Linked DNA regions of Homo sapiens. The protein of the gene in region 1 interacts with the protein of each later gene in a biochemical or structural test. Each region holds a gene or a part of one and is shown on either strand. Other genes may lie near its edges.

Evidence for each region.
Region 2: the proteins of NFIA (region 1) and LHX2 form a complex in vitro, tested with the Homo sapiens proteins (one study listed by BioGRID).

Annotation. Positions count from the first base shown.
Region 1 is NC_000001.11:61,456,560-61,460,239, forward strand, and holds part of NFIA (nuclear factor 1 A-type), read left to right. Parts: 3' UTR 1-3,680.
Region 2 is NC_000009.12:124,017,952-124,021,767, reverse strand, and holds part of LHX2 (LIM/homeobox protein Lhx2), read right to left. Parts: intron 670-3,816; coding exon 464-669; intron 1-463. UniProt on the Homo sapiens protein: Acts as a transcriptional activator. Stimulates the promoter of the alpha-glycoprotein gene. Transcriptional regulatory protein involved in the control of cell differentiation in developing lymphoid and neural cell types.

The DNA.
Region 1 (3,680 bases):
ATCTGGCATCATAGGATTTATCAGTTATCAGACACCTCATTGTACCAGAGATTGTCCAGAAGTTTTAAAGACCTTTGCATCCCTGAACTGGGCTATGGGAAATAATAATAGTAATAATAATAATAATAATAATGATGAAACCAATACTGACACAAATGCTGGTGCCCATTCAGATCAAGGGTACTTGTTAGGGAAAAAAAAAAAAGTTTGCACCCCCAAACGTCCTGTATCTTATGAAAAAAAAAACAAAAAACAAAAACAAAAAAAAAACACAAAAAACCACAGAAACAAAAACAAAAAAAAGTGCAAGTGATTTTTCTACCAGACAGCGAAGCACCCCTTTGCTTCCCATGCGACTTCAAGAAGGTTTCCTATACTATACATATATATACGTTCTGGTTGGCAAGCCCTGCTGATCAGAGAAAGTCTCTGCATGTTCTAGTGTTAGTAACTAATTTTTATATAGTTAATGTAGGATAAAGTAGAGTGCATTAAGACACAATATTGTAATCCCTACTCTAGGCACTTGCCTTTAAACTATGTTTTTCAGCCCTTCAGAAGGGTTCTACTACTGTCCTATACAATCAAGTAACTGAAATTCTTGGGAAGACACTTTGCTCCTCATCTTTCTCCCCGAAACAATGTTGTTTTGTTTTGTTTTTTTTCCTTAATTTGCACGAAAACAAAAATTCCATATCAATGTGCCTTGCCCTGGATAGCGATTATTTGTGGAATTGTTGCACATGCTCCTCTATTGAAAGGGGTTTTTCCCTAGTCAAGCATTTGGAGACACTTTTTGTAAATGTGACTTTTATGTCAGCCATCGTCAGTTTCAACATCTAGAACTAAATAGAAAGCTAGTTGTTCCGCAGATAGGAGTAGTCTTTATTGTCCTGTACGGTCGGTGGCAGTGCTATTCTGAGATCTGTAGATGCTTAGAATATCAGTATTTTGGATGTTGCTGCATTTTACAATTTATTTGGAGTCTTCCTTTATTTTCCCCCAGATATATGAAAATATGCAATACCTGCTTATATCATGTAGAAAAGCTTAGCAATTATTAATTTTTCTTTTATTTTTTTTTATTTGACCAAAGTCGGTGCTGCACTTGACGCAGTGTGTTTTAGGTGTTTGTCTTTGTACTTTTTTGTGATTTTTGAATGCACGTGCGCAGGAAGGGCTCCTCTTAGAGAAGCAGTCAAACTGTGAAGCACTAAGCTGACCCTGCTTCAAGCAATTTTGTTTTTACAACTGTTCCTTTCACAAGCAAGCCTTAAAAAAAAAAAAGACAACTTCCTTTTTCTTCAGCTCCCACACCCCATTTTTCTTAGCAGACTGCAGTCAATCCACATTCAATAAAAAGTATATAATGCCCATTTTTATATGCACGTTTTTAAACTTCCAAGTTCTGAAAATTGTTTACTGGTTATCTCTATTTAAGGAAAAAAAAATAAAATAAAACATTTTGGATTTTCATATGTGTCTGATAAGTGGTTGAATAGTCGTTTGGCGCTGTTGTATGGTGTGATTGTCAGTGTATGGTGTCACTTCCTATAGCCAGCCAGCATACTTTGCCTTCCCCTATAGCACTTAGCTGGGCATTACTTTATTATGACATATGTGCACTAAAAAATGAAAAAAAGGAAAAAAAGAAAAAAAAAAAGAAAAAATAGCAGCTTTCAGTGCTTCACAGTGAAGGGAAAAAAGCCTAGACAAACATTTTGTCAGAACCTTGCAATAAGCCAAGGTATTACCAGTAAATTGGTTGTATATACAATAAAATTGCACCCTTTTTTAAACAAAACAAACTAAGCAATAGTTTGGGCAGTTTTAGTTGTTTTTAGTGAGCATGTTGTAGTCATGACTGCAAAGAGAGAGAATAAACTGCCCGCTCAGAAGATATGTAATTTGTATTGTTGTATAGTTTTATTGATTACACTGATTTATTCTACCCTATTTTATAATGCAGGACTTTTGTAATGTTGTTTAAATGAGGAAAAATTTCTGTCAAATTAGCCTAGTAAAATTTCTGATCGTTCATTATAAAGGCAGCGTTCATAGAATTGCTTTTCTTTCTTTTTACCCCCCCTTTGGGAACTGGATTTAAGTTTAAAACTTTCCTGTTTCCTTTTTTTTTTTTTTTTTGTAAGTATTTAAATACAATTATTTTTTTCTCTCAATGGTATAGCATATTCCTATGCTTGAGAAGTATAGGTCTACTGAAAAACCATTGTAAATGGACGTTACAGGTATGCTGTATTTTTGAAGGTATTTTGTTGTATTAAGTTTGATGAAGCTAAAATTAGGGAACTCTGAACAGATTTGCAGGAAAAAATGTTTTAAAGGCTTTAAAACATTAGGGAGGCAGTCTAGGGTGATAACGAACAGGGGTTAAGTATTAAATACACGAAGTTACATTTTTGTTCATGTTTCATTGTCCAGAAAGCAGCAGGAAACTATTCAGTTGTGATCAAGCAGGAAAAAAGAAACACCAACAGTTGCCAGTGTTTTTGCTTTTTAGCTTAAAAGCATAGTGAAGATGCTTGAGGAAGACTTTGCTACCTGGGGTGTGTAGACAGACAGACTGAGAGCTATCAGCATTTGAAGGCCCAGCCCTTGACTCTGAGACACATTTGAATTTTTTCTTTCCCATCAAATGGCATTAACAAGATTGGGCAAAGATGAGTCCCTCAAATTTCTGTGTTTTTTGTTTGTTTGTTTGTTTGTTTTTTCTTTGGGAACTGAAGTCAGAGGCACGAACACTAACTCTTAGCATTTTTCTGTAGACTTTTTCTTCTGGCCCTTGTCCCTGCCAGCAAAACGCCCCTTTTCTGATCATTCGTGCGCAGAGGGCCTCCCAGTAATGCCACGCTCTCCATGCTAGAGAGCCTTCTCTTTCCTCTGAGGTTTGAACTGATGTTCTGTGTCTTCACACCCTGGCATGACAGTTACGTGTGGTCAGCCCGCTCCCCAGGCCCGTCCCTGCCGCCGCCAGGTGTGGGCTCTAGGCAGGCCGACAAGGTTACACCTCCCAGAGCTTGTGATCTTCATTTTCTGACAGTCAAAGTGTGAAGGAACCCAGACTTCCCCGAGCCACGGTGTTCAGTCAGCCCACAGGAATATGCAAGACCCATCTCCAAAAGTTTGTCTTTGATTTTTTCCAAGCCCTTAGCCCCATAAGCTTTGAATCCTGTAGTTACAGTGGCATAAAGGACTGACAAAACCTGGATAAGGAAAAACCTTTTTTTTCTATGAATTTTTTTTGTTTTTTAGGGGAAAGGGATTCTAAGAATGTCATTTAATGTACTTTGCATCATGTCTCTAGAAATATCTTTGTCCATAGTGGTGGTGGAGTCTCTCTCTCTCTCTCTCTTTTTGTTTGCTTCTGTTTTCTTTCTTGTCTTCATTCTTTCTTTTCTTTTTTATTTCTGGTAGCAGGCCTCCATAGAACAAATCTAAAACACAACCACCATAGTAATGTAAGGAGAGCTTCAGTGGCACCTCAAAACCCACCCTTCGAGATCTGTCCAAAGACAGTCTCAGAAAGCTGCACTGCCCACCGGCTCAGCTTTCATTCAAAAAGGCTTCCAAGGCCAATTCTGTCTTGAAGTCAATGCATGTATTTACTGTTTGACAGTAAACCCGCTCTGCCTTCTCCACGTCCAAGGCTGTGCATTCGT
Region 2 (3,816 bases), on another chromosome or scaffold:
GAAACTAGAGTGGGTAAGAAGCAAGAAGCAGGAGCTAATGATAGTCACCTTGGGTGTACGTCCTGGGATGGGGTGGGGCGGCCTCTAGATTTATCTGAAATGTTTGAACCTTTTATGATGTGAATGTGTGTAAAATGAGTGTCACTTGAATAATAAACAGAAACTAAGAATTGTTTAGAAGAAAGAAAAGAGACCGAGTGTGGAGACAATGAGGATGGAGCGATACGCAAACAGAAAAACAGAGAGGCAAAAACTGAAAAAGAGAAAAGACAAAGTAAGAAAAAAAAGACTGAAATACAGATGGGGACAGGCTGGAGAGGTGAAGAAAGAGAATGAGAAAGATTAAACACACAGAGAAGCAGACACAGGGTGGAAGGTCCTTCCAAGGCCCACGGCGAGGGGTGCAGGGTTCCACCCCAGTCCCTGGTGGTCGCAGATGCCCTCACCCCTGGCCCTGGCTGACCTGGAGGACCCGCTTGGTGAGGCCCGTCTTTTGCGCGAGCTGCTTCAAGTCCTTGGCGTCGGGGTTGTGGTTAATGGCAAAGTAAGACTTCATGGTCCGAAGCTGGTGGTGCTTGAAGGACGTGCGCATGCGCTTGGTCTTCTGGCTGCTCGGGTATGGCTGGTCACGGTCCAGGTGCTCTGCGTCGTTTTCGTTGCAGCTTAGCGCTAGGGAGGAGACACAGAGCCGGTGGGTGAACTTCCTGACCCGCCCCCCATGCCAAATCCACACTCGCCCCACCCACTGCCAAACATTTCAATCCTTAACCCTGCTGCATGTCTGCGCCACAATGAAAGGGGGACATCATCCCCATTTTATAGATGGAAACACTGAGGCTCAGAGACAGCGATCCACCCAGGATCACACTGCTAAGAACTGCAGCACTGAATCCCGGCTCTGGGAGAATCCAAAAATCATTCTGAGCCATTATGTTACAATAAGAACAATAGTAGCAGCAGCAGCAGCAGCAGCAACAACAGCTACGACTTGTTGATGGCCGATTGAACTCCAGGTGATGTGTTAAAGGGCTTTCCAGGCACATTTTCTTTAGGTACTTAAAACAATCCTAGGAGCACCAGGTATTATTTTTCCCGTTTTTACAGATGTTGAAACTGAGGCTCAGCAAGGGAAGTCACTTGACTTTGGACACAGCAGGACAGGGTCTCTGGGCCTGCCCTCCTCCTGTTTTCCAAGGCACTCTAAGGAGGAGTGCTTTCTGCCGTCTCCCCCTACCGTGTCTGGGACCGGCACCTAGAAACTGCTGAAACAGAGATTCATGTTCATTTTGCCACACCCAAAAGTACTGAGGGACCCCTGGGCCTTGGGCACTGGGCCAAAGGTTGGAAACTGCATTTTGCAGTTTAATCCTCATCGCTACCCTGTAAGATGATTGTTTCTCCGTGAACAAGTGGAGCAAATTAGGCTCGGGGAAGTTCAGAGATCTGCGGCAGTCCACAGAGAGCGGCAGAGTGGACGGGGAAGGAAGTCCGAGGCAGAAATAAACATGTAGTAGACACCTATGGTGTGTGTTTGGCTTTACAAATGTCACTGTACATCATTACCTCTCAGAGAGGTGGCTATGACTATTCCCATTTTAGAGATGTGGAAACTAACGCTAAGGGAAATGAAGCCACTTGCACACTGCCACACCACCGGTAACCAGCTAGATTGATCTTGATCTGTTGAGCCTAGATTTAGCACTGGAGTACTCCTTGTTTTCTTCCACTACACCACGAAGGGAGGAGGGAGCCTGTCCCTAACCACAAGGAGCCTCATGGGGGCCACGCTGCCAATGCCTGGCTGGCATTGGGGGTGGGGAATATGGGTGAAAACCTGGGCCTCAGAAAATTGCTCAGCCACCTGGAAGCTGATGGGGACCTGCAGGACCCCTCCCAAGGTCGCCTCCTCATGGCACCTCCCGAGCCATGCCACACTTAAGGTCTTGCCTTGGGGTAAGCCTCATAAGGGGTGTACATTCGGTCCGCCTAAAGTGAGAACTGAGAAGGTATCTTGTGCCCTCATCACATACCCGTAACAGAGCTCTAGATTTAGCAAATGAAAATACAGGTTGCCCAGTTAAATATAAATTTCAGAAAAATAATAAGTAATTTTTTAGTATAAGCATGTCCTAAATATTGCATGGGACATACCTATACTAAAAATGTATTTGTTGTTTACCTGAAATTCAAATACTACAGGTGACACAGCTATGCTAAAAAATTGTCATTTATCTAAAATTCAAATATTACACGGGACACTTATACTACAAATTTCAAATTTATTCGTTATTTTTCCAAAATGCAAATATTGCCGGGGACACTTACACTAAAAATGTATTTGTTACGTACCCAAAATTCCAATTTAACTGGGGATGCTGCATTTTGCCTGGCCACACTACCTCCAAAGGACTTTTACTCTGCTGGTGACCTCCCCCTTCCCCTGCCCAGATGGGGAAGAGCCCCTTGCAGAGAGAATTTGCAAGATACAAGTCTTGCCCCTGCCTTTGGAGCTGTTAGCTAGGGGCTACACCTCCTAGGGGCCTCTTTCCACCGGCACTCAGGTCCCCTCACCCCCGGGGCTGCATTCCCACAGAGAGCACGCCCAGAGTGAAGAGCGCGGGTCCGGCAATTTAAAGGGGATCAGAGGATGCCTCTGAACCTGATCCACCAGAACTGCTTGGAACCCGCTGAGGTGAGCAACCCTTTTCTTTCCCCCAGTCCCCAGCTCCACTGGGGGTGGGGCAGCCTCCCTACGGGGTATCTTTGGGCCCATCCCTCCACCGAGCCCCCGCCTGGGCCTGGCTGCTGTTAATGAGCTCCGTGGGGACCCCGGCGCCCCCATGGGCCCAAGGGACCTGCCCTGAGTGCCGCCTAGGTGGGGTAGTAGTGCGGGGGAGGGGGACAGAAAGGGCAGAGAAAGGAGAGAAAAAGACAAACACAGAAAGGCAGAATGGAGGGAGAGAAAGAGAGAGGGGGTAGGGACGGAAGATGGACAGAGCCAGGAAAAAGAGAGGACAGACAGAGGAAAAGAAAGCGAAGGAGCCAGGAGAACCACAGAGAGACAGCTACAAAGACAGCAAGAAATAGGGAGAGCGGAGGGGAAAGCGAGTCCCGGAAACAGGCGCAGCTTGTGGCGAGGGTCCGGTGGCCGAGCTGAATCCCGGGGCTCCGGGAGACCCGGTCCCTGCGGGGGAGGCCTTTTCCGAAGCCGTTATTGGCGGGGGAGTAGAGAAAAGGGGAAAGAAGGGGAGTGGAGAAAAAGGGAAAGGAGCCGGCCCTAAGTAGCGAGGCCGAGGCCGGCCAGAGGCAAGGGCAGGGGGCGGCGGCGGGGGAGGCAGCCGTGGGGCCCAGGTTTGGCCGGCGCCCCGAACCCCCTCACTCCCGCCCCCAGTGCCCGGGGGCGGGTCGAGATTCCCCAGGATCGGATCCGGGGAGGAGCGAGGGGCCGAGGGGAGGGGGAGGACCCGGGCTTTCTCTCTCCTTTTTTTTTTTTTTCCTCTCAATTAGGCCGATTCAATGGAGCTAAAGAGCTCGTAAAATCATGAATAATTTACTCGTGATCTGTTATTAACCCATCGGGTTTCGAGCTCTTGTCGCTGGGACTGAACCTGTAATCAAATCTGACTTCGCCTCATTTTACTAAAGACGAGATTGTAGGTTCAATTGTCTAAATAATGGATTGGAATCAAATCAGTAATTACGCCGCCAGGCACACACACACAAAAAGCTGGGGCTGGGGGAGGCCGGGCGTCCGGCCGGTCCGCGCGGGACTCCCGCGGCCGCGGCGCGCAAACCCAGGCGCAAAGTGCGCGGCCC